Regions from separate parts of the Homo sapiens genome. Here regions 1, 2 and 4 are each reported to be linked to region 3. Evidence: microRNA targets listed by miRTarBase, many of them from high-throughput screens and not tested one by one. Region 3 holds a microRNA gene; each other region holds the end of a gene's coding sequence.

Region 1 (7,637 bases), not on the chromosome of region 3:
GAAATCCACTTTGTGCTCCATGTTGAGATTACAGTATGTACAAAGACAGACACTGTCTTGACTTTTTGACCTTTACTGTCAAAGGACATGCATGAACAGTAACAAAACAATCAAGGCTGGTACGGCTGGAATGTGAGGGGAATGTGACTGTTGAGGGGCAGGCAGGGGCCATGTGAAGGATGGGATTTCTTTCCTCCTAAGGGCAACAGGAAATCACCGATAGGGCTTTAAGCAGGAGCACCTTAAAAAAATGACTCCATGTCTAGGCAGCTGGGTGTAGTGGCTCACGGCTGTAAAGTCAGCACTCTGGGAGGCCAAGGTGGGAGGATCGCTTGAGCCCAGGAGTTCGAGATCAGCCTGGGCAACATAGACCCCGTCTCTACAACAAAAAACACTATAGTCAGGTATGGTGGTACGCCTCTGTAGTCACAGCTACTCAGGAGGCTGAGGGGGGAGGATCACAGGTGGTCAGGGCTGCAGTGAGCCGTGATTGCCCCACCACACTCCAGCTTTGCCAACAGAGCAAGACCCGTGTGGGGAATAGACAGGGGTCCCCCCAGGAAGGCCAGTGCCAAGGCAGGGAGCTCTAGTCGAGGAGAGAGACATGAGGGCCTGCAGTGGGGTGAGACGTGAAGAGACTCAGATGGATTCCAGAAGAAGCAGGAGGCACAAATCAAGAGTTCGGGGAAAGACGGACAGGACACCAGGGAGAAAGTCACGAGCAACCCCAGGTCCTGGTTTAAATAGGTCAATGGTGATGTCATTCACCAGGACAGGGAACAGAGGAGAGGACCGGGTTTCCGCTGCATGGGGCTATACGGTGAAGAACATGGTCATGGAGGGCTTGCAGGGCTGGGCTGTCAGAAACACCAAGGGGACATGGGTGCCCAGAGTAGAGGTCTGGGCTGGAGATGACATGTGGAAGCCAGGGGCATGGAGAAGGTGGACTGAAACCGTGGGCTTGTGTGAGGGTGCCTCAGGAGAGGGGAAAGGGAGGAAGAGGGCTTGGACTTGACCTAAGCCACACACGAGCTCCGTGGAGGAGGACTGGCCTGCACAGGAGACTGAAGGAGTCTCCAGAGAGCAGAAAGGGCACATGGCCCAGAGGTGCCCGGGAACCAGCATTTCAAGGAGGCAGGCACGAACAGTCACAGCTGCCGAGGGGTCAGGGAAGCTAAACATGTTCCTGGGATTCGGTGGCACAGAAGTCACATGCAGCCAGGGAGGAGGAAGAACCATGATCTCAAGGTCTGAGTCAGGTGTCTCCCAGCCAGACTTAAGTGTTAAGGGAAGTGGGGGGGATGAGCAAACCGGTTTCCATACGTTTTTTAATTATGTCAGTGATCGGTATTCTCAAACACCAGCTGCTGCTGGTGGTGTGACCTGAACCCCTGCCTCTTCCAGCCATCCATTAATTTTCAGATAGATGCATGCCGACAAGCCCAGTCCTGGGGCTGTCACTGGACACACACAGGCGGATCATGCAGCTCACAATCTCAGGGCAGGGGGAGACAAACACAATCCCCAGAAGATCACCGCCTCGGAGCCCTGGCCTAGCTCACCTACCTCCAGCAGCTCCTGGGCTGTAGATCTGCGTAGTAAAAATCAAACCCTGAGGCAGAACCGGGTATTTCAGGGAATTTTTGTACCCAGCTTCTCTTGAAGGGCCCCTGAATAGTCTGTAAAAGGGATGGACGCCCAGTTGCAGAAACAGGCATTGTGCAAGGCACTTGTGTGTGTGCACTGAAATGGCTGGTTTCCTGGTTTCAGTCTAGATGAGCCAGTAGTGGCTATGAATGAGACTGGAAGAGGGGGCCCCTGTGAGAACATCTTTCAATCAGAATGTGCTGTACGGAGGGAGGGCCAGAGTTCATTTTGGTCACCAAAATTAACTTTTTTTTGTTTGGTTTTCCACTAGTTAGATCTGCCAGTTCCTTTTATCCCATGCACTGAAAGTTTAAAGTGGTGTTCTCAGGAATTATGTTTGGCCAGGAAAGGAGAAATCGCAGAAGCCAATTACATCCTCACAGGCCCCTTCCTTCCAGGAGAATGACTTTACCATCTTGGCTTTTGTACATGATATGAGCCAACATGGAAACGCAGGCTGCTCTGAACTCCTGTCATCATCCATCTTTACTGGGGACTGGGCCACTGGGTATTTTTTTCCCTAAGTCATAATCAGTGTACCTCAACGCTTAATAGAATTCATCCCCTCTAACTCCATGAAAGGACCATCACTTGTTGAAAGTTGCTAGAAATTATAAATACCTTTGAAACCTTCTATTGGTTGTGATGTGTCCCTTTATTTTAAATTTTGTATCAGTGTCCTCAGTCAGTCCAATGTCTTCAAGGAAAGTGAGTGCCCAGAGTCACAACAAGTAATGGGGAAACTCATCAGCTGGAGATCTGGGTCTGGCCAACAGGGCAACTTCTGGACTTTTCAGAAAAAGTGAGAATCCGAGAGTTTCAAAGGATTTATTTGATTTCCCCACATGATCACAACCATGGTTTTACATTGATAGAGTCTGTTGCCACTGACAAACAGAATGCAGATGAAAACAAACGCACTCCTTTCCTCTCAAAGGTACACAGTGGGGGTGCCAGGCTTCTTGTGAGGGAGGTGTCCCTTGAAGTCTCTGAACAGTCTGGGGATTCAGGACCTGATTCTAATTGCTTAAAACAACTCGGAGGCAAAAGATATTTTCCAAGAGGAGATGCATGCTGTGTGCAGTCTCGATGTGACTGCACACAGAAGGGCGATGCAGATGCATCTGAATGGAGGGCAGGCCTCCTCCCTCTTGTCCTGTGCTCAGCACCCCCACCTCACCCTGCTCAGTGTTGCAATGCTGCCTTGACTATTGTTGTTACATAAAATACAAATGTACTCGTTTCTCAGGCAGGAAGGGTGATGATATTTTACAAGGAGAACTGTAAGACTGTGCGTGCTTACCTGCGGGCACAGAGCTTCCCGTGGCGCTGAGTCAACACCCAGCATCAGCTGTGAACATCTGCTGTCTTTTCAGCTCATTAAGAAAAACAAGAGGCTCCTGCTGCATGCAGTGTGTGAGGGAAAGATCACTGCACTGGGTGCTGAAGACATTTTTAAGCAAGATGTGCACAGCATATTAGGATGAACTTTATTTTTACATTGTTGTACAATTCATTGGTAAACTTAAAAAAATACAAATACATGATTTGATTGTTGTCCCAGAAAAGACTTTTGTCACATTGCCAGCTGTTTCCCTCAGCGTCTCCTGCTCCTGTCAGCAATTCTGTATGTAACTGCAGTAATTTGTGTGACTTGAGAAAGGTGTGCCAAGGGCGTCCTCACAGTGAGAAGGGACCAGGCAGACATCCTGGGGCCCTCGGCCTCCTCCTGCCTCCCCTCCCAGGGGATGTGATGACAGGACCCCGAAGCTGTGGCTCTGACAGGTGGGATCTCTAAAGGGGACAGTCCCATGAAAGACACACGGGGACACCAGCTCACTGGGAGCTTTTGCTTTCCCAAACAAGATGTGGGCAGCATGACTCCAGCCTCTGGAACCCAACAATGTATCTTCCACAAACTTTTGATAAGCTTGCAAATAAAACAGAATGAAACCTCACTAGCCTGAAGGAACACACTGAGTGCGGCGGGAAACCCCGGGAAGGGCTCAGTGGGTTCCAGCAGTTCCTTACGCGAGGCCCTGCTGCCCAGCACAGCTCCAGGACACACCGAGGACAGTGCCACAGGCTGGCAGCCCGAGGCTGTGGAGCTTGCAGGATGGCGATGGAGAGGGAGAGTTTCCTGAAAGCCCCTCCTGGGGTTTTCTGTCTGTTCCTATTCATTACTGCTACCCTTCAGAAAGAGCAATTCTGTGCCAAACGGCCTGAATCTTTTCTGGAACAACCTAAAGGTTACAGTTAGACTCTCCTCCCAGCACAGAAGAGGGTGAGAAAAGCTGACATACTCAATATGTAATCGCTTTACTTCAACGATGTGTTTACAGTCACGCCAATACATTTTGCAAACGCACAACACGCAGAGCGCAGCCTCACAGCTGACGCCAGATGACATGCAGCAGTTTAACGCTTCCAGGTCGGAACAGCCTCCTCAAAATTGCGAGACAGAGTGCTTTGGGGAGCCTGGCTTTTAAAAAAGACCCGAGAATTGATGAGTCGGAGACACCAGGGCGCTTCCCTGACAGCCCAGCCTGGACCCAATCACACGGTCCCATGCTGTTTCTTTCTGAGCAGACACCAAAGAAATGCCACGCCAATGGGAGGACACAGGTGGGCGGGTTAAAGTCACATTTTTAAAAAGGCTAAACTCTAGATTGCTGTATTTGCTCTCTCTGGAGATTAACAAAGTGCTTGGTTTGCAGATTTGCTGGTACGGTGATCTCAATGATATGACCGAGGGTGGGAGGGATGTGAGGAGGGAAATCGGCAAAACCCTGGCCAGCCAGCCAGCCAAGGTGACACACAGCCAGAGGGGGCTCCCCTCTCCTCCTGCCGTCCGGCCACGGCTCACCACGCTGTCCACTGGGAACGCGGCCCCGCGGCCCGCAGAGTCAGGCGTGAGCTTCGCCCTTTCTGAAAGGGCCTCCGCCTGGGCAGGCGCCGGGGGGCAGTCCTCGGGTCCCATGGCTTAGGAGCACAGCACTGACGGCTGCAGTGGCTCGAAAGGCTGAAACTACAAAGTATGGCCCGTGGGTGACTCGGGCACAGACCTGCCGCGTGCAGGTCTGGCCCTGGGGAGCGCATGGTGTCACCACAACACAGAAGCGACAAGAGCACAGCTGAGAGTCATGTGATGCCCTGGCAGCTCACTGGACCATGGGAAGGCAGCGGGGGCTCCGCCGGGCACTCGTCGGCTGGGGTCACACGGGCCACGGTGAGGACACAGGGGTTCTGCTAGCACATGGCTACATGGAATTACGGTGATCACTGCTACCACTCAGAAAACAAAACGGGAAACACACACACCGCCCTGGGTTGCTAAACGCTAAAGTCAACCTTCAGGTTCGAGAGTGGTTCCTGATGAAAACACTCTCTGAGGGCTTCGGCCTGGTGTGGGTTGGAGGCGGGATGAGGACGTTATGGTGTTGGGGAGACGAGGATGAGAGCTGGTCACTTTCATGTTGGAGATGAACACTTCTGCCGTGTATGGGTGCCCCTCTCGGAGGACTCTGAATGAGTGTGCGTCAAATCATATGCGCATAAAAGAAACATGGATCATGGAGAGTCACAGTTATCGCAGCCATTAAAGTGTCTAAGAATCCGTGTAACCAATGTCCTAAGACAACCAGCTTGTAACCAGCTGTCCTGAGTTGCTACTGTAGAGTGTACTGCAGTTTAGCTATTTGCTTACCTGAAATAACAGCATTATAATACTATTTATGATAGTATTCTGTTAATAAAATAAGGATTTATACAAAGCAATACTGGACTTTTTAAACAGTTAGATGCTATGTTACTTGGCACAGTTAGTAATGATTGTGTAAAGATTTTAGCCAGTCCTAGAGGGACTTCTTTGTATGAAAATATGAAGTATCTGAATTTGTTCCTAGCATTTAGGGTTTGGTCTATTGTCTCACACACCCAGCTAAGGTACTGTCTTCCTATTAGGTAAGTGGAGCTCCTTGTAAGGTGGGTATTGCTAATGTGGACTGAAACGCCTGCCTTTCACACACAAGTACTACCTATACAGTATATATATATATATATTTATATATTTATATATTTATATAAAGTTTACTTACGTATTTTCATCAACCATATCAGGTCTACTTATTTTTTTGCCCATTGTCAATAAAAGAGCAATAATGCAGCAAGTTTTGGGGTTTGTTTTGTCTGTTTTTGTATCTCATTTCTTCGTTTTCTAGGTTGGGTTTTCATATGCATGTACATTAGGGCACAGGGAGCTGAGAGCTGGAGTGGGGGAGGCAGTTCAACACTACTTGGCTGGCTCACCGTTTCAAGGCTGATGGTGTCTGAGGCCCACCCATCCCTCAGACTGAGGTGAGCAGAGCCCAGGGTGCCAACAAGAAATGAAATCTGGGCCTTTGTTCCACACAACACCAGCCCTGTGGGCTCCTGGGGCTCCGGTTGGGCCGTGAGGGGCAGAGGGGAGAGATGGCAACAGAAGTGCCCCGGGTTTGGTGTGCGGCTGGCGACCCCCGGGCGTGCCCTGTGTGGTGTGCAGGTGTTTCAGGGAGCCTGGGACCCCTACCCAGGCTGTCTACACAATTGTGCTGATGCCGCTGGGTTTGGCCTTGCTGCTGGTGGGGGGCGGCGGGGCAGGGGGCTGCCCATGGTGGTGCACTGTGTGCCCCACGTGGGCCGAGGGCAGCGGCGGGTGGCCGTGGGCATGGGCCCCGTAGGCTGGGTGGCCCCCATGGGGGCCGTGGTGGTACTGGTGTGCGTGCTGGATGTGCTGGGGTGGGTGGTGGTGGTGGTGATGGTGGTACGGGGGAGGGTTCTGCATGTGGCAGTACTGGGTGTGATGCCCGTGCATGGCGGCCTGCGGCAGCCCCTCTGGGGGCCCCAGGTGGTGGCCAGCCACAGAGTGCTGCAAGTGAGGCAGGACCACCGGTGGGTGGGGGGGTGGCAGGGCTGGGGCTGAGGGCAGGTGGGCCTGGGGAGGGGGCTTCCCTCTCTTGCTCCCGAATAAGGAGCCCAGGAGGGAAGATGAGTTGGGCATAGTCTGGTGTGGGCGAGATGGACACTCTCGTGTTGATGTAGCTCTCCGGCGCATGTGAGGACTGCTAATGATGGACCCCTAAAAAGGAAATTCATAGAAATCAAAATTAAAAGATCTTCAAGCACTTAGGTCAGAATGATTTTTTTTTTTCAAATGTAAAAATTCACCCACTGACTGCTAAGCTTTAGTTCAACTCACTGGCCAGAGGGTGGGGCTCAGTGAGGCTGGACTGGGCCCCGCCTCCTCTCACTACAGTGCAGGGCAGCTGGGGGTTACTGGCCTTGACCAAAGTGGGGAGTGAGGGCAGGGGAGGGGCCCATCTCTCTGACCACCACGGCAGAAGTAGGACTTCTGGTCTCATTCTGACAAGCACTTTGGCCCTGGCAGCAGCCTGAGATTTCAAATTGGAACCCCTAGGTTGGGGTGTCTGTGCGCTGTGTGTGGCGAGTGCAGAGGGGCTGATGTGCCTGGAGGAGGAGCCCTGCTCCTGCTGAAAACAGGGCCCTCAGCTCTCCTGGGACTGCTCAACTGGGCTGAGGGCATGTGCTCCGCCCATGTGGGTCCTGAGGTCTCGGGGGAGGTGGTGACAGGGACAGGTGGGGCTCAGAAACCTTGTCCTCTGGGAGAATGGGCTGCCTAGGCATTTCACTACAGCTGCCTACTACAAACCAAACAAGGAAAAAGAAGGTAACAGAAAAAGATCTGCAAGCTGAGGTAGAGATGTGAACAGTAATACAGAGATGGCCGGAGGATGAGTGAAATATCATGAAATCCACACTGAATCTCTTTCTCTCAAGACACTCCTCCTCCCACAAGCTAAGCAATTCCATGGTGTCCTGCCGCAGACACACAGCAATCAAACTCCAAGAAGAAAGCGATGAGGATGGGCGGGCGTGGAAGTCAAGGGTTCAGCAAAAACATCCAACAGCAAGTGTGGAGGGTGAGTGGGAGC
Region 2 (7,523 bases), not on the chromosome of region 3:
TACCTAGGAGGCTGAGGCATGAGAATCACCTGAACCCAGGAGGTGGAGGTTACAGTGAGCTGAGATCACACCACTGCACTCACCACCCCCCCCACCCACCACCGCCATACACACGTAATAACCTCTGATCACCTGAGGTCAGGAGTTGGAGACCGCCTGGCCAACATTGCGAAATCACATGTGTACTAAAAATACAAAAATTAGCCAGGCGTGGCGGCAGGCACCTGTAATCCCAGCTACTCTACTTGGTAGGGTGAGGCAGGAGAATCGCTTGAACCTGGGAGGTGGAGGTTGCAGTGAACCGAGATTGTGCCATTGCACTCCAGCCTGGGCAAAAAGAGTGAGACTTGTCGCTGGGTGTGGTGGCTCACGCCCGTAATCCCAGCACTCTGGGAGGCTGAAGCAGGCGGATCACCTGAGATTGGGAGTTCGAGACCAGCCTGACTAACATGGAGAAACCCCATCTCTACTAAAAATACAAAATTAGTCAGGCGTAGTGGCGCATGCCTGTAATCCCAGCTACTTGGGTAGCTGAGGCAGGAGAATCGCTTGAACCTGGGAGGCGGAGGTTGCGGTGAGCCAAGATTGCGCCATTGCACTCCAGCCTGGGCAACAAAAGTGAAACTTTGTCTCAAAAAAAAAAAAAAAAAGTAATAACCTTTAGCAGGTTAATTGCTGCCTCCTTAATGTTGGGTTTTTTTTTATTTTAAGTGACTTCCTTACTATTGCTTCCTGGACTAAACCAACATGGAATCATTTTGAAGTACATTGGAATGGCCAAGAGGGAGATAAACAAACTTCTCAAACAAAAAGAAAAGAAAAACGAATGATTCATCTGCTTTAATCAGTGTGATTAATGCAGCACCCATTGCCCCGGGAACCGTTTCTGCTGTACTATCTGGATACTAAAATGTTACGGAAGTAGCTCTTTGTTCTCCCTCACTCTGCCCTTAGTTAATAGAAATTCAGACTCGCCAAGTAAGGCTTCGTGCATAGTGTCTTCATGTCGCGTATAGTTGAGCGCGTTCTTAGCAGTTGGCTTCATGGACAACTCATTAGTGTTTTGACTTTTCTTACCCAGCGTTAATTGAATTCTTGCTTTTAGACAACTTCCTTTTTGTAGTGGTGAACCTTGCCCTTTAGTACAGTTCAAGTGAATCTGGATAATTGTTCATCTTTGCTTTAGCTTAGATACCATGTAGTGGTCTGTGGCTACAGGAAGCTGGTTCTGTCTGCTTCCACAGTCTGCTTAAAAAACTGTCTGACTTCGTGAATATAGAGACCAAGTTTACCACTTCTGATGAAGAGACCAATTAAGATTCATTCCTCATTCTGTTTCTTTCCAGTGGGAGAAGAGTCCCCATGAAATAAGATGAAACTGATTCCATGCACTAGTACATGTAGGCTTCTCCCTTGTGCAAAGCTTAGCAATTTGTAGGAAACTTTGATCTTTTTGTCCAAGAAAAGGAATGTCTGACAGGCTTAAGCTTTCGTCCCCTTGCACTTAGACTCGAAGTTAGTAAATCCTTAAAGGCTTTTTAATAGCAGACTTCCAAAAGATTGCATTTAGGATTTCTAGCATGCTTTTAATTTCAGATTTTCAGCTGACATTAGCTATAGTATACAGTAGGTTAAGACTCATGTCTATGACTTTCACTCTAAGACTGGCAAAAGGACAGCAGTCTTCTATGTTTAGTCAATATTCATTTCAGTAGAAGATAATCTTATCTAATTTTTGAGACCAGAATAAGCCTTTTAAGGTAAACCTCAAAATTATCATTTTATGGTAATACTGACCATTTTAGTCCCCTAGGTTTGACATGGGAGATAGTGACTACACTGGTGTCTGACTTTTTTCCTAGAGATTTCTCCCTGAAAAATACAAGGGCTGTTGGTGAGAGCAGACTTGAGGTGATGATAGTTGGCCTCTGGTCTACAAAGATTTCATAACTCCTTGGAAAGCTTCTTATAATCATTCTTAACTTCTTGGTAGCTAGAAATTTAGAGTAGTTGAAATCTTTAGGAATGAACTTCTGAGGGCCAAAAAATGTGACTGACGGGAACAATTCTTAAACTGATTAACTAGCTGTAATATAGTTTTGTGAATTTATTGCACTGATGTTGTACCTTGTGGTATATCTGTCCCTATTAAATAAGTGTTGTTTTCTCCTCTTTAATATTGCTGTGAACAGTGGTGCCCATTGTAGCATATGTTTGATTTTTTTTTATTATTTCATAAGAAAACTACGTTAATTTTACCTTACTTTCATTGTAAATAAGCCTGTCTTCCTATCTGGATTTTTTGTGTGCATACATATTCTACTGATTAACTACTTTTGCAGTTTTAATCCTGTATTATTTCTTCTACTTTGTTTTGTGTAAAAGGGGAAAAAATAAAAAAAGCTGGAATCTTCATGTCTCACTTTCTTTATAACTTAGCCAATATAATATTTATGATTGGATTTATGAATCTGATTAATGAAGTACCCTGTGTGGTCCTTAGATGTCTATAAGGTACCCTACCTGTAATCCCACCACTTTGGGAGACCTGGGCAGGAGGTTCACTGGAGTCCATGAGTTTGAGGTTGCATTGAGCTGAGTGTACCCCTGCACTCTAGCCTGGGCAACAGAGCAGGACCCTGTCTAGGAAAAATTTTAAAAAAGAACAAAAATAAAAGGTTTAAGTTTTATTTAGCAAATATCCAGGTACCATGCTAGAGGGAAGAGGAAATGCAACGAATGAGCAGGGGCATTGACGTGTGAGAGAGGACGAAGCTGGAAGAACCGGCAGGGACAGAACTGGCTAAATGGTGCCTGTGTGGGCACCTCGTACCCCAGGGCCTTGCTAGCGTCTGGTACATGGGTGCTCAGTAAACAACTGTTGGGTGACTTTTGTCTGAACTTAACTTTTTAATTAAAAAAAAATTTTTAGCCGGGTGTGGTGGCTCACGCCTGTAATCCCAACACTTTGGGAGGCCGAGGTGGGCAGATCACTTGATGTCAGGGGTTTGAGACGAGCCTGGCCAACATGGTGAAACCCCGTCTCTACTAAAAATACAAAAATTAGCCGGGTGTGATGGCGGGCGCCTGTAATCCCAGGTACTCTGGAGGCTGGGGCAGGAGAACCGCTTGAACCCGGGAGGCGGAGGCTGCAGTGCGCCAAGATCGCGCCACTGGACTCCAGCCTGGGCGACAGAGCGAGACTCCTTATCAAAAGTAAACTAAAATAAAAATTAAGGCCCGCGCGGTGGCTCCCGCCTGTAATCCCAGCACTTTCGGAGGCCGAGGCGGGCGGATCGCAAGGTCAGGAGATCAAGAACATCTTCGCCAACTTGGGGAAACCTCGTCTCTACTAAAAATACAAAAATTAGCCGGGCGTGGTGGCGCATCTCTGTAGTTCCAGCTACTCAGGAGGCTGAGGCAGGAGAATCACTTGAACCCGGGAGGCGCAGGTTGCAGTGAGCCGAGATCACGCCACTGCACTCCAGTCTGGGCTACAAGAGCGAAACTGTCTCAAAAAAAAAAAAAAAATGTAGACGAACCTCCAACGAACGGCTCACCTTGCCTCTCCCAGGCCCCACCGGGGGAGGTCGATTCCATCGACTCTCAACTGCCAACCCCTGAGGAGGCTCCGCCTTTCCCTCACCCTCGTCCTTCTCCTAGGCGGTCCTTGTTTTTGCCGGGCCTTTGAAAGTCTCGCGATAGCTCTCCCGCTTCCCATAACTCCGTGCGCTCTCCCCTCCCGTCCTCTTTCCGCCATCTTTCCGCGCCGGTGAGTAGCACTCTCTGAGAGCTCCAATTTCATCCGTCTGCCATCGGCGCCATCCTGCAATCTAAGGTTCGGTCTCGGTGTCCTGCGAGGAGGCTGGTCCCCACCTTGGCCGAGGATCCTGGCCTTGCCGGTTCCTGGACAGGCATAGAGGAGAGCCATGGCTGGGCGCCCCAGACTGTGCACTCAGGGGATCCCGGTCCGTGGGGTGCAGGCCGCAGCGCGGGCGGGAGCCGGAGCCTTCGACTGCCCAGCTAGGCGGTAGCTCCGGTTCGGGCCGCAGCGTCTGGATCTCCCTTTAGTGCTGAGGCAGCGCCTTGGCCCCGGGCGGCGGGCAACATCGGGGCTGGTGGGCCGTGCAGCTTCTCACTGCTGCGGCCGCGCTGGGAGCTTGGGAGGCTGAGGCCACCCAGCAGGTAAAAGCTGCATCGTGCCGGGGTTGGCAGTTTGCTGGGTGCCAACTTGGATCTTCTGGGCCGCAGAGTTTTTCTTTAGACACTTTTGAACTTAAGGAATTTAAGTTCTACTCTTTACTATTGGCACTTTGGTCTTTCAAAACTTCAGTGTAGTGTGCGGTTCTTGCCCATTAGAAGAGAGTCCAGTCTGACAAGCATGTAAAATGTTTCTGTTTGCCACTGTGGCTCTTGCTGTTGGACGCAATTTTAAATGGCACGAAGATGGATGTTTAATAGTTAGATGTGTTCATTGTAGGTGAGAGTGAACTGATTTAAAGTACAATGTTAATAGTATGGAATCTGCTGATTTTCAGCAATTTGGAAAATGTTGCCGATGATACTCTGCTTCTGTTCTGAATCACTGATCGACTATACCCGATGTTTTCCTTCCGGTAGCTGGCAGTTTCTGCCAGTTCTCACGTTGTCTTGTGTCAAGTGGATTTTGTCCCACATTTTATTATCTCCAGACGTTGGTGTGTGGCACGATTCGAAGAAGAGTGGTTAGTGAATGAATGAGTTTCAAAATGTGCAGGCTGACGTCCCGATAACCTGTTTTCAACAACCGTAGTAAATAGGAATTTTCCTGGGTGGTGGGAAATGGAGAAGCAGCCTGCTTAGACTTGAGAAAACTTCGCCAAGGTGGGGCCAGAAAGGAAAGGATACTTCCGCAGTGTAATGGTTGGTGTCTGTTGATGTTGGCAATGCCAGTAAAACCTCCTGTTTTGTCTTCCTTGAACAGCCACAATGGTGCGCATGAATGTCCTGGCAGATGCTCTCAAGAGTATCAACAATGCCGAAAAGAGAGGCAAACGCCAGGTGCTTATTAGGCCGTGCTCCAAAGTCATCGTCCGGTTTCTCACTGTGATGATGAAGCATGGTAAGTCTGCTGCCGCTGTGTTTTATGTTTTCATGTGAGACTCTCTAAGAAATCAGTCCTGTAGAAATTAATTATGGGGGACCAAAGTATGTCTGTCATACCTGAGAACGAATGCAATTGACCTGTGGGCTGTGGAGGAGGGGATAGTCTGAAACTGCTGAAGAGTCACTTAGAGTAGGACTGCTGGAAAAAGGAGCTCTGCTAGGTGTTTGGGAGCTAAATGAATCTAAGTCATTGAAAGGACTCCTGAGCTCATTTCGAGACCAGCCTGGCCAACATGGCAAAACCCCGTCTCTACTAAAAAAACAAAAAACAAAAACAAAAATCAGCCGGTCGTGGTGGCAGGCGCCTGTAGTCCCAGCTCTTTGGAGGCTGAGGCAGGGAGAATTGTTTGAACCCAGCAGGTGGAGGTTGCAGTGAGCCGAGATCGGCCACTGCACTCCAGCCTGGGCGACAGTGCAAGACTCCATCTCAAAAAAAAAAAAAAGAAAGAAAGGACTCTTGAGATCTTCTCAGAGCTCTTTGAGAGGAAAGATTGGATTATTGCACTTCTTTGGCACAAAGTAGTCTTTGGGAATGGGAAGCAGTGAAGGAAGGGTCAAGGGGAAAATAGTTTCTTTCAGAATTGCAAGGTGGATTGTTTTGGGTATTGTCTCCCAATTCTTATATGTTAGGTTGTAAAAATTAGTTCTGATACAGAGCAACTGTCTTCCCCCCAACTTTTTGGAGAAGCAGTCACTGAGGTGATGGGAGAGTGAAGAATTGAGTAGGCTAGAGCACAGAGGTTTAGCTCTCAAGTTGATGTCTTTTATTTAATCCAGTCAGTTATCTTTTGTAGGTTACATTGGCGAATTTGAAATCATTGATGACCACAGAGCTGGGAAAATTGTTGTGAACCTCACAGGCAGGCTAAACAAGGTAAGAACGAGTGATCTACACATTTCAAAGCTTTAAGAATTTTTTACTGTGGCGTTAAATGTTGTAATTGCCTTTGGAAATACTGAGTAGTGGTGCCATACTTGATTTATCCAGTTACTTTAAAAAGGTTTAAAAATTGACACATGGAACTTCATTTGCTCTCCTGGGTTGATTGTGCTAGGATTATGTCAGTTGACCTAGTGTTTTTATGGGGTATAAGCTGTCTCAGGAGAGATGGGGGGTGAAACCAACGCTGGTACTGGTATTTGGATGTTAACGCTACCCACCTCACTGGCTTGAACTTGGGTGGCTCAAGGCCATTGAGCCTTTTGTCCAAGGTGCTGTGTCCTTCCTCTCAGTGATGTGTTGGGTTTTTTGAATGGAATCTTTATCTTTGAGTAAATGGGGCTTTCTAAATAGCAATATGAATACTTTTTCTGTTTTTGCTGGCATAGGTCTTTGGGGTCTATGCTGCTTTTCAGTTTGACTTGTCAACACCTTAACCAAGTAAAACTGACTTTGTGGTTTAAGTGATTGCGTGTGTTTTGGGGGCAGGTGTCTTAAGCTGGTTGAGGTGTCCACTGTGCTTCCTGTCAGGTTTGTAGCTTTCAGATTTGCAAGGAGGCAGATCCTCTAGTTCAGGCTTGTCCAACCTGCCTTATTTTGTTGTATTGTTTTAGACTTGTAGCAGCCTGAAACCATGGTACTTAGTTTCTGTCTCTAGTGATAAATGGAAAAGAGGGATGAGGAAGGGGCCTTACTGGCCCAACTAGAAACAGAAACTAAGAACCCATGACTGTATTCTCTCCCTTGGACACCCCTGTGTTTATTGCAACAGATAGGGGGGAAAGAGACCCAGAAGGTGAGTTGCTGAAGTATTTGTTAAAGATTTGAAGAACTAGCTGGGCACAGTGGGTCACGCCTGTAATCCCAGCACTTTGGGAGGCTGAGGCAGGCGGATCACGAGGTCAGGAGTTTGAGACAAGCCTGGCCAACATGGTGAAACCCTGTCTCTACTAAAAATAGAAAAACTAGCCAGGCGCAGTGGCGGGCGCTTGTAATCCCAGGTACTCCGGAGACTGAGGCAGGAGAATTGCTTGAACCTGGCAGGCGGAGGTTACAGTGAGCTGAGATCGCACCACTGCACTCCAGCCTGGGTAACAGGGCAAGACTCCCTAAGATTTGAAGAACTTGCAAGGGTAATTTTCAGTATGTCATGTTTTGTTCTAGTTGTAGCCATTAGAACCCCACCTCAAAATAGGATTGATTTATTTTTATTTATATTTCTTTTGAGATAGTCTTGCTCTGGTTGAGGCTGGAGTGCAGTGGCGCCATCTTGGCTCACTGCAGCTTCCCTAGCTCAAGCCATCCTCCCACCTCAGCCTCCTGAGTAGCTGGGGAATACAGGTGCATTCCACTGTGACTGCTGATTTTTCTTTAACTTTTTTGTAGAGGTGGGGTCTCGCTATGTTGCTTAGGTTTGTCTTGGACTCATGGGCTCAAG
Region 3 (7,637 bases):
CCGCAGGATTGGTGAGGGGCCCAGGCCACTGGCATTGGAGCATGGCAGGAAAAAGCCTGACCAGAACTCACCTGGGTAAATTACAAAGTGCTTCTCCACTTCCTCTGTCCTCCTGTGCTCCCTCTCATCTCTCCAGTGAAAGGGCTGCTTAGATCATAACATTCTTGCACAACCCACGGGGTGCCAGTTAAGTAGCCAAGTGGCTGAATTTCTATCAGAGCTTCAGAATGCGGAATGGAGGAGCCCCAAAGTGTCACCCTGGATCCTTTAAGGAACAATTTCTATGATGATGTAATAGAAGTTGACATCCCCTTTGATCAGTGTCTTCTGGGTGGGTCTGTGAGATGAGGGTGGGGGCATCATCTCTGTGGACTGGGTGGGGTATGACCAGCAGCGCATTTTGCTGAAGCTGTGAGCTCTCTGTGGCAGGGTCTACCTCTTTTTCTCCTTTTCTGACCCACCTGAGCTGGGTGCAGGCTCCCTTTGCACCGAGTGGACCCACAGACAGCTGTTTGTTGAGTGCCTTGGGAATGCTCATGGCTTCTGTCCACAAGGCAGGGGCCTCACAGCTCTGATGCAGGGAGCTCCGCTCAGTTTCTTGGCCTCATCCTTCTTCCTGCTTTGTGCATTTTCCCAGAATAATGACAGTCACTCCTTCCCATCTTTGCTCCCTCTCCCACATCTCCCCTACACAAATCTTTGTCCTCCCTGGCTTGACACCCTCTGCTGCACAGCAGAGAATGAGTTAAAAATCAAAACCCACAGCAAAGAGTGTCCCCCGTACATTTTTTGTGAGCTGTAACATCTCCTGAGAGAAGGTAGTTGTTCTTCTAACCTGCAGATTGATGATCCGAGTTCCACACAGTGTCGGCTGAAGGGAGAAGCAATTAAAAGAGAACACAGTGGGGCACCAGGTTCATCTCGAGAGCTCTTGTCTCTGGCAGTTGCCCTGAGTCCAAGGAAGACCTCAGAAGGTTCACTAGGCCCAGCAGGATCCACCACTTACCAAACCCATGATTAATAGGAACAGAGGTGACTCCCACGACACCACAACCATCTGCAGTGTTTCAGTCACTGCCCAGTGAACAGAACTCAGCTTCAGTGGTGCTGGGGGTGGTTACTAACGTAGGCACCCCGGAATTTTAGCCCCACCGGGAACTAAACCAAGTTTAAGCTCTGCTGCCTACGTCTCTGGTTGACCAGCAGAGGGCATAGAAACACTTTCTTCTCTCCTGGAGTTTGCTTTTTCTCTGGGAGCGAACCAAAAGCTGTATTTTCTAACCCATGAAAATTCTAGTTTATGAAAAGATATGTAAACTGGTGACTGAGGGCCTGCCCAGACCTCCTGGTAGGATGGAGAATGATCAAGGGCCAAATGGTTTGTCTTACCCAGCCAGCCTTGAGAAAATCCTCTTCCTTGAAAGCCTCTAGGGAGAAAGGAGGCTCCCACTGGGGCAGCCCCTGGATGGTCCTCCAGCCCTGTTCTCCACTGCTTCGCCCCAGTGGTATCTGAGCCCAGGCTGCCTCGCTCCAAAAGCTAGTTTCCCCGCCAGCATTTCTAAGTCATGAACACGGATCAAATGCCCGCACAGGGGCTGCCTCCCTACTGCAGCTATGACAATTGGCAGAGACCAGGGGCAGGTCAGGACAGGTGGTCTCCCAGATATTAGTCCTTGTGGCCTGCCAGTCACAACGGCCCTTCTGCTGCAAGCCATGGAGGCTCAGTGCAGGATGGATGGATTTGATGCAGCTGCTGGCATTTCACTCCCTGCCGCTGCCCTTGGGGAGGAGCGGTACCTGCAGGTTTTTTATAAGAGCAGAAGCTTCCAAAGCTTCAAGGGGCTTCCCATGGGCAGCAGATGTGCAGAGAGGAGCTGCTGTGGCTCTCTGCAGCGGGGAATGTGGCCTGGGCTCTGAGTTCCCAGCTCAGGCCTGTGGGGCTCGAAGATGGCCAACACTAACCAAAGCCTGTTCTGAATTTCAAATTGACACAAAGGTTCCTCAAAACCAGTGATGGTAAACACATACGGGATGTCAGGATGCTGCTGTGACAGCAGTTTTGCTGTTGCCTGAGAGAGACAAGGCAGGTCAACTCCAAGGCAGACAGAAGGCCAGGGAGAGTCCCCAGTGTGTGCAGGGAGAGAAAACTGCTGTCTAGGGAATGTTACCCCATACCTTCCCCCTCTCCCTTCTTGCCCTTTCCCCCTCCTTCCCTCCCTTTCTCTCCCCTCCCCTTCCTCTTCCTCCAGCATGCCTGTTGTTTTCACTTGTACTTAAAAAAATTCTTGGTTTTATGTGACAAAGAAAACCTTTTTATTTTTACATAAAAGTTTATTAAATTTGATTCCGCGGCCTGGTGCAATGGCTCACGCCTGTCATCCCAGCACTTTGGGAGGCCAAGGCGGGCGGATCACTTGAGGCCAGGAGTTCAAGACCAGCCTGGCCAACATGGTGAAACCCCATCTCTGCTAAAAATGCAAAAATTAGCTGAGCATGGTGACATGCCCCTGTAATTCCAGCTACTCAGGAGGCTGAGGCAGGAGAATAGCTTGAACCTGAGAGGCGGAGGTTGCAGTGAGCCGAGATGTAGCCACTGCACTCCAGTTTGGGTGACAGATCATGACCCTGTCTCAAAAAAATTGATTATGAAATTTGTATTTCCATCAGCTCCGGTCATCTCTATATCCAGCTGAGTGATGTACATTTTCATGTGGCACCCAAATCATCCTGCAAAAAGGACCCTGAGCCCTCAGGAACCGCAGGGAGCCTGCAGAGCTCCCAGGGTCCTCAGGGCCTTCCCACAGGGGCTCAGCAGCTCCTCCTCAGTGCTGACAGAGGTGACAGAAAGTGACCTCCCATGTGGCATTGATTGAGGGGGCAGGAAATCACCCAGGTGTCATCCATTTGTGTGAGAAGTTGCAGGGGCCCAGGGGGCGTGGGAAGACGCTGACCCAGAAGGTTGCTTCCAGCCAGGGATTCAGCCCAGACGGCCTCCCTCTGTGAACCTGGTTCTCCTGTCTGCCTAGCATGGGGCTGAGGAAGCCTCACTGACTTCGTCTCTGGACATTTGACCCCTTCTGGGCCTTGGAAAAGCCAACACTGGCTTCTTCCTATAGAGCCAGGTTCCCCGCATCTTTCACCTACTGGTCAGACATGGCCTTCCAGGCAGAGAAAGCCTTGTAGGTACTCTCACCAGCAGATGGCCATTTTCACTTGGCAAGCCTCCCGGCCACTTCCTTCTTTTCACAGCAGACCTGAGAGAGTGGACAGAGAGCCCTACAGAACCTAGGGCAGGCCTGGGAGATGGAGGAGACCCATGCCCCAGCTCAAGAGTCAAGGGCCCACCTGAACAATGAGGTAGGGGAACAGCTCCTTTCAAGCCCTTCCTTCCCCACCCTCTCTGGACTCTGGATAAAGAAACACGACTGCTTTCCTCTCACCCAGAAGCCAGAAGGACCTGAGCACCCAGGACTTGTGGCTGTCAGAGAGCTGTGGAAGGGCAGGGGACACCAGATGGCAGCAGCAAGAGCTGGGCGGCAGCATCTGCCCAGGCCACCTGCGGAGAGAAGGCTGGAATCCGAGGGATCACACTGGGCCAGCATTGAGCCTGTGGCCACCACACTGACCCCTCCTCAGCTCCCCCTCACAGGACCTGAAAGCATTTCTGAGTTAAGTCTGCATAGGAAGTTTTCCAGAGCCATGCCACATATCCCTCCATCCACTCAGTGCCCATTTTACAGATGAAGAGAGAGGCACCCAGAAAGGTACACCAAGGCAAGATATGGCGTAGACAGGATGAGGGCAGAGCCAGCTTCCTGATCTGATGGAAGTCATGAAGCCTTCTCTGCCTTACGCTTGGCTCTGCAGGGTCGCTGAGAGGTTCCTTTAAGGAGATCATCAGAATCCTAAATGGCAAAAAATGGCAAATCAGGGGAAGAGTTGGAGCCCAGCATTTGGGGACACACACACACACACACAGTCGTCTTGCCTTGCAGAAATTGGGTTGCATTACTCCAGTCTGCCACTGAGTGGCACCTTTGGGCCATGCACTTGGCTCCAAAGACATTTCTCTGAACAGCAACAGAAAAACATGTTTAACCCTAAAAAAAAAAAAAAAAGAAACAAGTACATCTTACTTTGGATGAAATTTGATGACAGATTGAATGCACTGTCTGCACTTTCCACCACGTCATGTTTCAGCTTCGCTTGTCCCTCCCTTTCTGTTGACTAGACTACCTGTGATTCCCGCTGCTCTCGGAACCAGCACAGGACCTACTCTCTTACTCACTGATGGGGGAGCTGGCCTGTCCATGCACAGGGCAAAGGATATGACACCCAGACCTGGATCCTGCTGCAAGGCTGCCTTGGGAACCATCCTTAAGACCCGGTAGCTGTTGTCCAAGCTTTGGCTCTGGCTGCTGCTGCTCTCAGCAGAAAAGAGCTCACTGCTCCCATGCGGATGCTGAGGGATTAAACAGAGGCAAATACGGAAGTGAGCAGATTTTTCTCTCTTGCTCTCAGCAGAAGGAGAACCATTCTGCAGAGAAGTTTTCAACATATGCCTCTTCAGCATTGCTCCAGATGCGTCCGTCTTCACTCTGAAACCCATATATTGAGCACCTACTATTTGCCAAGCACCGTGCTGAGCACTGATGTGAATTGGCTCAGTTTCTCCATCTATAATAGGAATGGCTGGTTCATTCTTACACAGATAGTCTTTATGATTCCAGGACACTGCCTGCTTCTGGGATCTCTCCTCCATTTTGATGCCATCACTTGATCCCAACTAGATTTGACAAAGGGTCTCACACTGTCTGCATGGTGGCATGTATGTAGCACTGGGGTTCTCAACCAGGAATGAGTTCATCTCCCAGGGGACATTGGGCAATGTTTGGAAACATTTTTAGTTGTCATAACTTGGGAAGGGGGGTTGCTATTGGCATCTAGTGGGTAGAGGCCAAGGTTGCTGCTAAACATCCTACATTTCACAGAATAGCCTCAACAACAAAGAATTATCCAGCCTGAAGTGGCAATAGTGCTGAGGTTGAGAAACCTTCATGTAGAAGGAGAGAAATCCCGTTCTGATAACGAGAAGCACATTGATCTTTTAATATGCAATTCTTTTCTGTTCTGCACCATAGGAACACCTTTGATGTTTTCACAATCTCCATGGTCTTTGCAGCTCATGTAGTGGCATCAGGGCAGGCTGAGAGATGCAGCAGAATGGGTTTCATGGGACATCAGCTCTGGGGCCATCTCAGGCAACATCCCGATGCTGAGCCCCCTGGAACTGACTGTGTTTCTGCTCCCACTTCAGGTTCTGGCTGGCTGTCCAAGATCTTAAGAAACAACCCCTACAGGATGTGGCCAAGAGGGTAGAAGAAATCTGGCAAGAGTTTCTGGCTCCAGGGGCTCCAAGTGCAATCAACCTGGATTCTCACAGCTATGAGATAACCAGTCAAAATGTCAAAGATGGAGGGAGATATACATTTGAAGACGCCCAGGTTTGCTTATCTACTCAAGTGGTTGTCATAAGGTGTTCATTTGTCCCCTTCATTGCCTGACCTATTAACACAAGTTCAAGGCATTGTGGGTAGTTAAAATTTCAGATTTGGTTATTTTTAAGTTCATCAGTGGAAACCATTTCAGATAGGCGCACAGCAAAATCCCAGGATCGTTTTCCTAGATGGGTTATGTATTACATAGAAACCAAAATGTGCAGTTATATGCTTTATTTGTTCCAGGAAAGCCTCAAAGTGTTTTACAAAATCTGAAGGCTTGTAATAAGTCAGTGATAGAATCTGGAAACCAGAACACAGCATTGGGGAAGTGGGTGTAGTGAGTTAGCAGGGCCATGAGTCAAACCCACATCTGTCTACCTCTGAAGCCCACACTGATAACCACCTCTCTACACTGCTTCCGCAGTGATCTCCAGCTCTGCAGTGAATATTTTTTAAGCACATCTATATTCCAGGCTCTGCGCTATGTGATAAGATACCACAAAGAACAGGCAAAACCCCTGTTCTCACCGAGGTTGAGTGGGAGACAGACAAGTAAATGGGCAACTTCAACAGTGTGAAAAGTGCCCCAAATGGGTGAACCCTAGGTTAAAGCAAGCCTGCAGGAGGGACTCCCAACCCTGTAGGACACAATTAAGATGCTCACAGATGCTAGTGATGCTGGCTAAAGAAACAGGAACCACCCTAACCAGCAGACTAAATTTTGACGGCTGGGAGGTGCCATTTCTAAAAATAAGCATTGGGTTGGTTTCTTACTTCCTGGCCCCTAATTTCTATTTCCTGTCACCATCCCACACCCAGTGACAGGGCTTAAGATTTTGCTTATCTCCTTGACCCCACTTACTTCTCTCACCTCTGGGGCCCCCAGTAGAGAATTTGGGTGGTTTGCCCCTTGCAGACATTATTATCTGATTTAGGAAACTCAGTGTAGCTGCACCAATGCAAATAATGGCATGAGAACAGTGTCCCTTATCATCCAGAATTACCTTGTCATTTGCTCAGAACTTCAAGATGGAAACACCTACCAACCTCAACACCATAACTATCTACTTCTCTCCCCCTGGTCACGAGCTCCATCAAATGCCTGTGCCAATCACGAAATCATGACTCCTTCATATACCCCTTGCAGCTTCAAAGCAGAATGTTTGAGTCATGAGAGCTCTTTGCTGAGATATTTTTGCTTATGTGTATGTACGTATGCTTTCAAGCACCATATTGACATGGCCAGAGAGGAGAGTGACAGGGGAGTTCCGTGGGGGTTCCCTGCATGAACAAGCTGAAGCTCAAACTCCAATATTTATGAAACACAAGAAGAGGGATACTGGTCAAAACCTTGATGCATCTAGCACAGTATTAACACTCCAAGCATGACATCAGGAGGGATTTATTTTAATTTTTTATTATGAAAACTTTTAACACTTGGAAAAGTGGAAACAGCAAAACAGCAAACATTTATAGACCCTCATCCAGCCTCAAAAATCATCAGTACACGTCTGATCTTGCTTTATCTCTAGCCCCATCTACTTTTTCACCTGCCACCAGGTTACTTTACAACAAATCCAAGATGTTGCATCATTTCATCTGTAAACTTAGATATGTATCTCTAAAAAAAAGATCCTTTTGTTTTAATATTGCCACAATATCCTTTATCTCCCTCCCTTCCTCACATCCCCTTGCAATTTATTTGATGAAGGATTTAGATCCTTTGTCCTGTAAAGAGTTCCAAGCTCTGGATTTTTCTGATTGCAGCCCTGTGGTGCTATTTAGCATGTTCTTCTATCATCTCTCTTTCCTATAAATTCGTTTTATAAGATATTTAATCAGATTTAGGTTTGATTTTTATGGACAAAACCACTTCATGGATTGTGTGGTGCTCTCCTATCAGAAGGCACATGTCTAGCCACCTCTCTTTTTGACCTTTTTGCAGATATTGATGTCTATCGCTTATATCCATTAGTTAATTAGAGGTTACAAAACAACAACGTACTAATTTTATTCTTTCTTCACTTATTAGCTGGAATACTTTCATAAAGAGAAACTTCCCTCCACCACTATGGTATTAACTAGCAGTACAATTCACATAAGAAAAGCAGGATAAATATTTGATTCTCTCCCTTC
Region 4 (7,637 bases), not on the chromosome of region 3:
TCCACCCTGCCAGCTGGGTCCCACCTGGGGGCTCTGCCTGTCTTCAGCCCCTTGCTTGGGGCTTCTTTGACCTCGTGGGGCACCCTCCCTCCTTTCCCCTGACCAGGGGAGCAAAGCAGATGTCAAATCAGTGGGGCTCTGGCTTGGTAGCCCTTGGCCTGAGGGCACTGACCAGCTCCCCCATCACTGGAGGGGGACTGCAAGGGCAGCCCCTTTTTGGGGCACTTGACCCCCAATTTCCCATTTTCCTTTGTCGCAGACAGCCCCACTGCCCTCCCCAGGCCCCTGCCTGTGGGGCCGTCTGTCCATCGGTCTCCTCCCTGCCTGCTGCTGCAGTGGCGGAGGCTGGGGGCTGTACCCCCACAGGCCTGCATCTGCCTCCACGGCTCCCACCATCCTCTGCGCCCAGGCATGGTGGGCAGCCCCGAGGGTGGCAGGTAGACCTGTCTCTTCCCACTTACTGCGGCCCCGCCCCTACCACAGGCAGAAGCTGACCCTGCTTAAAGAGATGCTGGCGGGCTGTGGGGCTGGCACCTGCCAGGTGATCGTGACCACGCCCATGGAGATGCTGAAGATCCAGCTGCAGGATGCAGGGCGCATTGGTGAGGGCGGGGGGAGGGGGAGGAGAGGGCAGAGGTGCGGGAAGAGGTGAGGGCGAGGGGAGGGTGGGGACGCAGGGAGGGCCAGAGCGTGTCCCCTGCCCAGTTCGCACAGAAGAGGAGACAGCAGCCTCTTTGTCCCCAGCCGCCCAGAGGAAGATCCTGGCTGCCCAGGGCCAGCTCTCGGCCCAGGGGGGTGCCCAGCCCTCAGTGGAGGCTCCAGCTGCCCCTCGGCCCACGGCCACCCAGCTGACCCGCGACCTGCTGCGGAGCCGTGGCATTGCCGGTCTCTACAAGGGACTCGGGGCCACGCTGCTCAGGTAGGAGGCACAGGGCAGGTGGGGGGAGGGAAGGGGGAGGCCGGCCTGCCCACCCCACCACCTCCTGTCCCCACGGCCACCTCCCTCCCCACAGGGATGTCCCCTTCTCTGTGGTGTACTTCCCGCTCTTTGCCAACCTGAACCAGCTGGGCCGCCCGGCGTCCGAGGAGAAGTCGCCTTTCTACGTGTCCTTCCTGGCCGGCTGTGTGGCTGGGAGTGCCGCCGCTGTGGCCGTCAACCCCTGTGATGGTCAGTGCATGGGATGGCGCCCGGCTGGGGATGGGGCGGGACTGAGCCCTTGGCCAGGCTCACACTGACCCGAGCGCCCCTTGCAGTGGTGAAGACGCGGCTCCAGTCACTTCAGCGAGGCGTCAACGAGGACACCTACTCTGGGATCCTGGACTGTGCCAGGTGGGGAGGTCCCACGGCGGGTGGGGCCTGGGGGCCTGCGTACCGGGCTGACCCTTTCGTCCTTCCTCCACAGGAAGATCCTGCGGCACGAGGGCCCCTCGGCCTTCCTGAAGGGCGCCTACTGCCGCGCGCTGGTCATCGCGCCCCTTTTCGGCATCGCACAGGTGGTCTACTTCCTGGGCATCGCGGAGTCCCTGCTGGGGCTGCTGCAGGACCCCCAGGCCTGAGCCCAGCACCCGCTCCACCCCAGCCAGCTGGGCAGGGCCGGTGTGGGGCTGGAGCCAGGCAGCTAGCCCAGGACGGAGCAAGGGAAGACCCCTCCCCAGCCCTCCCGTCGGCAGGGGCAGCAGGGGGCAGGGTGCAGGGTCCACATAGGTGGTGCACACGCAAGCCCCCCGGGGTGCTGCCTGCACCGTTGGGATCAATGTCTCATTTATGTAGAAAATGCAGAAATCTTTACATTCCTCAAGCTAGCCCCTGCCCCAATCCTGCCCTGGCCTGAACACCCCCAGGGACAGAGCTGGTCTCTGGGCTGGGGGCCCCCGGGCCTGGGCCGGGCAGGCTGGACCATACCCCCAGTCCACCAGCTCCAGTCTCCACAGCCATCCTGGCCCACACAGGCACCCCACACAAACCTATTTATTGAATCTGCTGGACCCAAGCGGCTCTCCAGCCCTTCCGTCCTTCCCCAGCCGCTCTTGTCGCCTTGGCAGGACTTGACTCTGCCTCCCTGGCCAGCCTTGCAAGAGGACTGGGGTCTCCTGCCCTCTCTGTTGAGCCAGGAATCCCAAGTGAGGGGTTGCCCTGAGGTCTGACTCTTGGGGCAAGCCCGCCACCCACTGTGGGACTTTCTGGTGGGCTCCTCAGCTCCCACCCCAGGCTGGGGCCCAGATTGTGAGGTCTGTGTGCATGTGTGTGTGTATGTGTGTGTGCATGCGTGTGTGTGTTGTGGGGATCTGGCCTGGCCCTTGGGGATGGGGCTGCTGGGGACTGCCCCCCTTCCCGCCGTGGCCAGGCGCTCTGTGTGCTGTGTGTGCCCCAGGCTCTGTTGACCCCGTCCAGGAACTAACTTACCCAGCTTGGTCTCTCCTGAGTCCTCCACCCTGGCCTGGGATTGGCCAGGGAGCAGGGCGGGCATTGGGACCAGTGTGGAGCCTGAGGGTGCCTGCCCTGCTCTGGAGGGAGGGCCAGGAGCTGCCACACCCCCAAGTCCTCTCAGGGCCCACCCTCCTTTTTCAGCCTCTGCATAAGGCCCCTGGGTACACTGCAGAAGCCCCATCCTTCCCGCCTCCGGGCATAAGGCCCCTGACCACACTTCAGAAGCCCCATCCCCCCTGCCACCGGGCGATCCCTGCTGTGAGCCGAAGCTCTCCCTGCCCCGCCCTGGCCATGTGATCGTGTTGGTGACAGACCCTGATGTGCTGGTGCTGTGTCCCCAAAACCGGGGCCCTCCACAGAGGCCCCTTCCCAGCGACACTACCTGGGGCTCAGGCCTGGACCCCCCCAGTTCACGGTTGCTCCTGGGAGCTGCCCCTCCCGTCACATCAGAACCTTGGAAGCTGCTGCTGCTGCTTACAGAATTATATTTTTTTCTTTTGAAGAGTTTTAAGAAGTTGTAACTTTTTGTGTCTTGTCATGTCAGAGAATAAATAAATATTCTAAGTAGATGCTGCTGTCTGTCTGGGGGTCTGTTTGGGGGCGGGGGAGGGCAGTCCCCTCTTCCCATAACTGGCTCCCTTCAGACTGCAGGGCTAGGCCTGCGCACCCACCCACCGACCCCTCACCCACCGACCCGTCACCCACCGACCAAGGGGCACCCTGGCCTAGAGGGGATGCTGAGCGGGACCCGCCTCCTGCCTCTGGCAGTCCCAGATGGGACTTGGACCCCGCAGTTGCTCTCTCGGACCCTAAGTTTCTACCCCTGGATCTAAGGCGGAGCTGGGTTTGCGGATCCCACGGTTCCCGGCGGGGCGGGGCCCGGTCGCCCCTCCCCCTCCCCGCCCTCCTGCGCCGGGAGCAGTGCATTGTGGGAAACTCCCGAGCTCTCCTCCGCGTTCGCAGCCGCCGTCATCCCGCGGAGGAGCGCGCAGCCCCGGGGAGGCCGGAGGACGCGTAAGGCGGGGGGCTCCCGGCGGGCGGGGCGGGCGGGGCGGGCGCGGCGTCCTGCGGGGCGAGGAGGCGGCTCCGGGCCTTGAAGGTCACTGGGTTTGCGCGCGGGCCCCCCAGTTCTCCAGGGCTCAGTTGATCCCGGGAGAGGGAGGCGGCGGCCGGGATGTAAGTGCCACAAATAGCGAGGTTGGGGGGGCAGACCACCTGCTCTTTGCAAACTTGATGCCCAGCAGCTGAGCCCCCCGAGAACTGCAGGGGTGAAGGGACGGCTGGGCTTCCCTGGGAGGTGGCAGCAGCTGGGCCTCTTCTGGAGACGCCCTCATCATGCTGTGACCTTCGGGTGACCTTCAGTGTGGTCAATGCACCTGGCGGGGGGTGGGGAACGTGCCTCCCTTTCTCTGCAGGTCTGGAGGGCATTTCTCATCCTTCCCTGGGAGAGGCAGACAGGCGGCCTCTGGGGCTTTGGGGCAAGACCCACTCAGGTTCAGGGCGGCTGGGCCCCCAGGGCCCTTCCCACCTCTGCCTCGGTCATTGAGAATCTGGGCACCGCCTTTCCCACAGCCCAGAACCCTGTCCTCCGCCCTGACCCGCGGGCCAAGTGCAGCATGTGCCCACCCTGTTTAACGCCAGGAACCCTCTGCCCACAGAGACAGCACAGCCTTGGGCTGGGCGAGGACTCCCTGCTCCAGGGCTGGAGGCAGGCACGGCCCATGCTGAGGAGGGGGCCCCAGAGGCTGGGGAGGGGCAGACGGCCCTTGGAAGCACAGCCCCACGCTGACTTCCTGGAGAGACACCCCAGTTTTCTCAAGTCTGGGTTCTTGTGGGCCCACCCACCCTGATGGCTGCCTGAGATCCCAGCTCCTGCCCCTCCCCGCCCTCCTCCCCCTGGGACCCTGGCCAGGTCACAGCCTCCGTGCTTTAGTGTCCATCTCTGCAAAGCAGGAATGCTCTCCTGAGGAGGGGATGCAGTCAGCTCTCCCACTGGGGCTCCGATCACCTCCTTGGAGGGGAGAATGCTCTTCCTTCGAGTTCTCTGGGCCTGATCCTTACTTCCCCACCAAGAGCCTCCTGCCCCCGGCTGGTGGGAGGATGTGGCATTTGCATGGGCCATTTTATGGAGCACAGTGGGGTCCCCTACCTCCTCCCACCTGTGCGTGGCCCTTGCCTCTGCGGCTGGAGGGGCCCCTTGAGGAGTGGTCATGGACAGATGGAGTCCAGGCCGTGAAAGAGAAGTGTCAGAGGCCCACGGGAGGCCCCTGAGCTGGGGCTCCAGAGAGTCCAGAGAACTGGGCAGGGGCTGCCTGGGGACCAGGTGGTCGGGGCAGCACAGGGGGGACTGGACCCGCGCGCAGCCTCCCTTGTGTCTCCCTCCAGGCCCATAGAATGCCCAGGGGCGACAAACTGTCCTGAGCCCCTCTGGTGCAGCCACCTGCCTGTCCCATACGCCCCGCCCACCATGGAGTCCAGAGGGAAGTCAGCCAGCAGCCCCAAGCCCGACACCAAGGTGCCCCAGGTCACCACCGAGGCCAAGGTACCCCCGGCAGCCGATGGGAAAGCCCCCTTGACCAAGCCCTCGAAGAAGGAGGCCCCGGCCGAGAAGCAGCAGCCGCCAGCAGCCCCCACCACGGCACCTGCCAAGAAGACCTCGGCCAAGGCCGACCCTGCCCTTCTCAACAACCACAGCAACCTGAAGCCAGCCCCCACGGTCCCCAGCAGTCCCGATGCAACCCCGGAGCCCAAGGGTCCTGGGGACGGGGCGGAGGAAGATGAGGCTGCCAGTGGGGGGCCTGGGGGCCGAGGTCCCTGGTCCTGTGAGAACTTCAACCCCCTGCTGGTGGCTGGGGGTGTGGCCGTGGCAGCCATAGCCCTGATTCTCGGTGTGGCCTTCCTGGTCCGGAAAAAATAATACCTGGGGGCCAGGCGGGGGGCACGGAGCCACTTCCTGTACAGACCCGAGGAAGCCAGTGCATGCAGAGTTCACCCTTACCTATTCGTACACACGCACATTCATTACACACCTACATACGCCCCCAACACACGCGCACGGTGAAGAGGACGCCCGAGCCCACCCCTGCTGACCCAGGACTTCCCCAACCTCCAGGGCAGAAAGAGCCCAGGCTCCGGGGTCCACAGCACAGGATGTGGGGCGAGGGCACAGCTGGGGAACGGCAAGAAAGGAATGGACCCTGTGTGTGGCCCCCCCCACCCCTGGCGGCTGGGTGATCCTGGGCCCCCAGGGCTGGTCTGAGTGCAGGTGGGGGTGCCGGGATGGGTTGGGCCTGGGCCCGGCCCTCGTGGGGACATTAAAGGGCGCGGTGGCTCCACTCGCCCCATTTCTGCTCTTTGCGTACCCCCCGGGGGTCTGCCTGGGCGAATGCAGTGGGACGGACCTGGGGTGGGCACTCACCTCAGCAGAGCCTCAATGCCACCTCCCCACACCACCCAAGCCTAGCTGGGTGGGAAGACGGAGCCCTGAAGCCTGCGTGTGGAGGGGGTGCTGCCCAAGGGTCGCCTTCCCCAGCTTGTGCTCCAGGGGAGCCCCGACGCCGGCGGGGAGGCAGGGATGTCGAGGGCCCCTCACAGCTGTGCCCGCCCTGCCCCGCTAGACTGCCCCTCCAGCTTGCACCCAGCACCACCTGAGTCTAACCAGCGTATAATGCAATAACAGGTAGAGTAGAACTGCTTTTGGCGGCGACCGTCACACACTGTCCTCAGCCCACTGCACCTGGGGAAGCCCCTCGTGCAGCCCCTCCTTAGCACATCCAGTCCCAGCGTGGCCCTTGGCGCGCAGCAGCAGGCGAACTCCCAGAAGGTGGTGGTGGGCACTGTGAGAACGTGGCCTGCCCTCACTGGCCAGTGGCCACAGGAACCCCGGGCCTGAGTGGAGGCTGAGTCTGAAATAAACTCTGTCGTCTGAAGGCTGCTCTTGCATCCTCATCTGCATGTGGCTGGGAGACGCAGGGTCGCATGTGTCACGCCCACACCCCAGGCTTTCCAGGGAGGGATGCTGCATCCAGGACCCTCTGACGGGACCCCCTGTCACTCCTATGCCCTTATTCCAGGGGCCTCGGCCCGGATCGCCACCCAGGCCCTGCTCCATCCTCCTCCCTGGCCTTCCTGTGGGTCCTGACCCAAGATGGACACCCAGGGGCTACAGGACCAGGAAGCAGTGAGGACATGGGGTGCGGGGAGGGCAAGCCCTGCTTCTCAGGCTGAGCTCTCCAGCCAGGCAGGGGCCCTTCCGCAGCCCCCACTGCAGCGAGCCCCACATCCTGAGTGCAGAAGAGGCTCCCCTCAACACCTCTCATCCATGGACCCCAGCCCACTCTGACCAGGTGTCCAACCGGCGGGCCTGCTGGTGGGCCTGGCCACGGGTGGGGCTGCAGCATGCGGGCCAACAAGCAGCAAGGCCTGCGGTGCCTGGGAAGGGCTCCTTTGAGCTCTGTCTTCCTGGCTCTGGGTCTCACCCGACAGGTGGCTGAGGCCAGCAGACAAGAGCTCCCTGACCACCTCCTCCCCCAAGCCTTCTTCCAGCTGGTGTGGGGGGACAGCCATGTCTTCCTCCTGCCCTTCTGGCACCTGGCACACTCCCTCCCCAGAGCAGCAGTCCTCGTTCATGCACCCACACCCAGGCCCAGACAGATACGGAGGTCCCACGGGGTAGAACCAGCTAAAACCGACACTGTTGCTCCCACCCAGGCCGCCCTGCGACAGCCTCCCTCGACTCCCACTCATGCTGCTGCCTCCTAGAAGTCAAGGAGGCAGCCTATCCCTTGAGCCCGTTGATCTGAGCCCAGCGTACAGAGAAGGCTCTGTGCAGACACTGCTCACACCTCCAGCTCCCAGCTCACCTGCCCCACAGGTGCCAGGATACCTCTCTGACTGGCCAGCAGGGCCCCTCACCATCCTCAGCCTGCCTTCCAGTCGCCCATTCTCTCCATTCTGCGGCTCGTGCTTTAAAAGCAACCAGCCAACCCTTTCTGATATAGTAGGGGACTTGAAAGGGGCTAAGAAGACTGAAGATGGTCTGCCACCTTTAACCACAAGGCTTGGCGCTTTGGTGCTGATATTCCACCCACGATGCTGCCTCATTTTACTTAGCGATTCTCTATTAAACGATGCTTAGATTTTCCAAAACTTTTTCAACTTCAGACAAAGCAGGAATGAAAATCCTTGTAGGCTGGGCACGGTGGCTCAC

What was found. The annotated mature microRNA hsa-miR-7843-5p reads GAGGGCAGAGCCAGCUUCCUGA and lies in region 3 at 3,798-3,819, shown strand. An mRNA with a match to its seed (bases 2 to 7 or 8) in the 3' UTR can be bound and repressed. Matches are read on the target gene's strand: a 7mer-m8 pairs with bases 2 to 8, a 7mer-A1 pairs with bases 2 to 7 and ends in A, and an 8mer does both.
Region 1: miRTarBase lists IQSEC1 as a target of hsa-miR-7843-5p. Seed matches in the 3' UTR shown: 7mer-A1 at 5,893-5,899 and 7mer-m8 at 2,780-2,786.
Region 2: the mRNA of ARL6IP1 is a reported target of hsa-miR-7843-5p. Seed matches in the 3' UTR shown: 7mer-m8 at 945-951.
Region 4: the mRNA of SLC25A22 is a reported target of hsa-miR-7843-5p. Seed matches in the 3' UTR shown: 7mer-m8 at 1,819-1,825, 7mer-m8 at 2,092-2,098 and 7mer-m8 at 2,496-2,502.

The regions. Positions count from the first base shown.
Region 1 is chr3:12,894,760-12,902,396 of GRCh38, forward strand. It overlaps IQSEC1 (IQ motif and Sec7 domain ArfGEF 1), which reads right to left. Exons shown (of 14, transcript NM_001134382.3): 14 at 2,284-6,763. The coding sequence ends at 6,224. All of the region lies in intron 4 of LOC105376956 (a long non-coding RNA gene), which reads left to right. Among named protein-coding and RNA genes, the nearest start is that of LINC02022, 13 kb to the left of the region's middle.
Region 2 is chr16:18,786,559-18,794,081 of GRCh38, reverse strand. ARL6IP1 (ARL6 interacting reticulophagy regulator 1) reads left to right here. Exons shown (of 6, transcript NM_015161.3): 6 at 712-2,413. The coding sequence ends at 830. It overlaps RPS15A (ribosomal protein S15a), which reads left to right and starts at 3,748. Exons shown (of 5, transcript NM_001019.5): 1 at 3,748-3,838; 2 at 4,964-5,101; 3 at 5,940-6,019. The coding sequence starts at 4,969. RefSeq lists enhancers at 3,511-4,140, 4,078-4,795.
Region 3 is chr14:72,513,034-72,520,670 of GRCh38, forward strand. It overlaps MIR7843 (microRNA 7843), which reads left to right and starts at 3,787; the gene lies at 3,787-3,865. RGS6 (regulator of G protein signaling 6) reads left to right here. Exons shown (of 18, transcript NM_001204424.2): 15 at 5,318-5,504. RefSeq lists enhancers at 1,134-1,203, 1,738-2,238, 5,916-5,985, 6,456-6,605, 6,696-6,785.
Region 4 is chr11:785,835-793,471 of GRCh38, reverse strand. It overlaps SLC25A22 (solute carrier family 25 member 22), which reads left to right. Exons shown (of 10, transcript NM_001191061.2): 6 at 484-602; 7 at 745-919; 8 at 1,014-1,168; 9 at 1,255-1,330; 10 at 1,404-2,997. The coding sequence ends at 1,557. It overlaps CEND1 (cell cycle exit and neuronal differentiation 1), which reads left to right and starts at 3,382. Exons shown (of 2, transcript NM_016564.4): 1 at 3,382-3,442; 2 at 4,814-6,357. The coding sequence starts at 4,896. The coding sequence ends at 5,345. RefSeq lists a silencer at 3,242-3,471.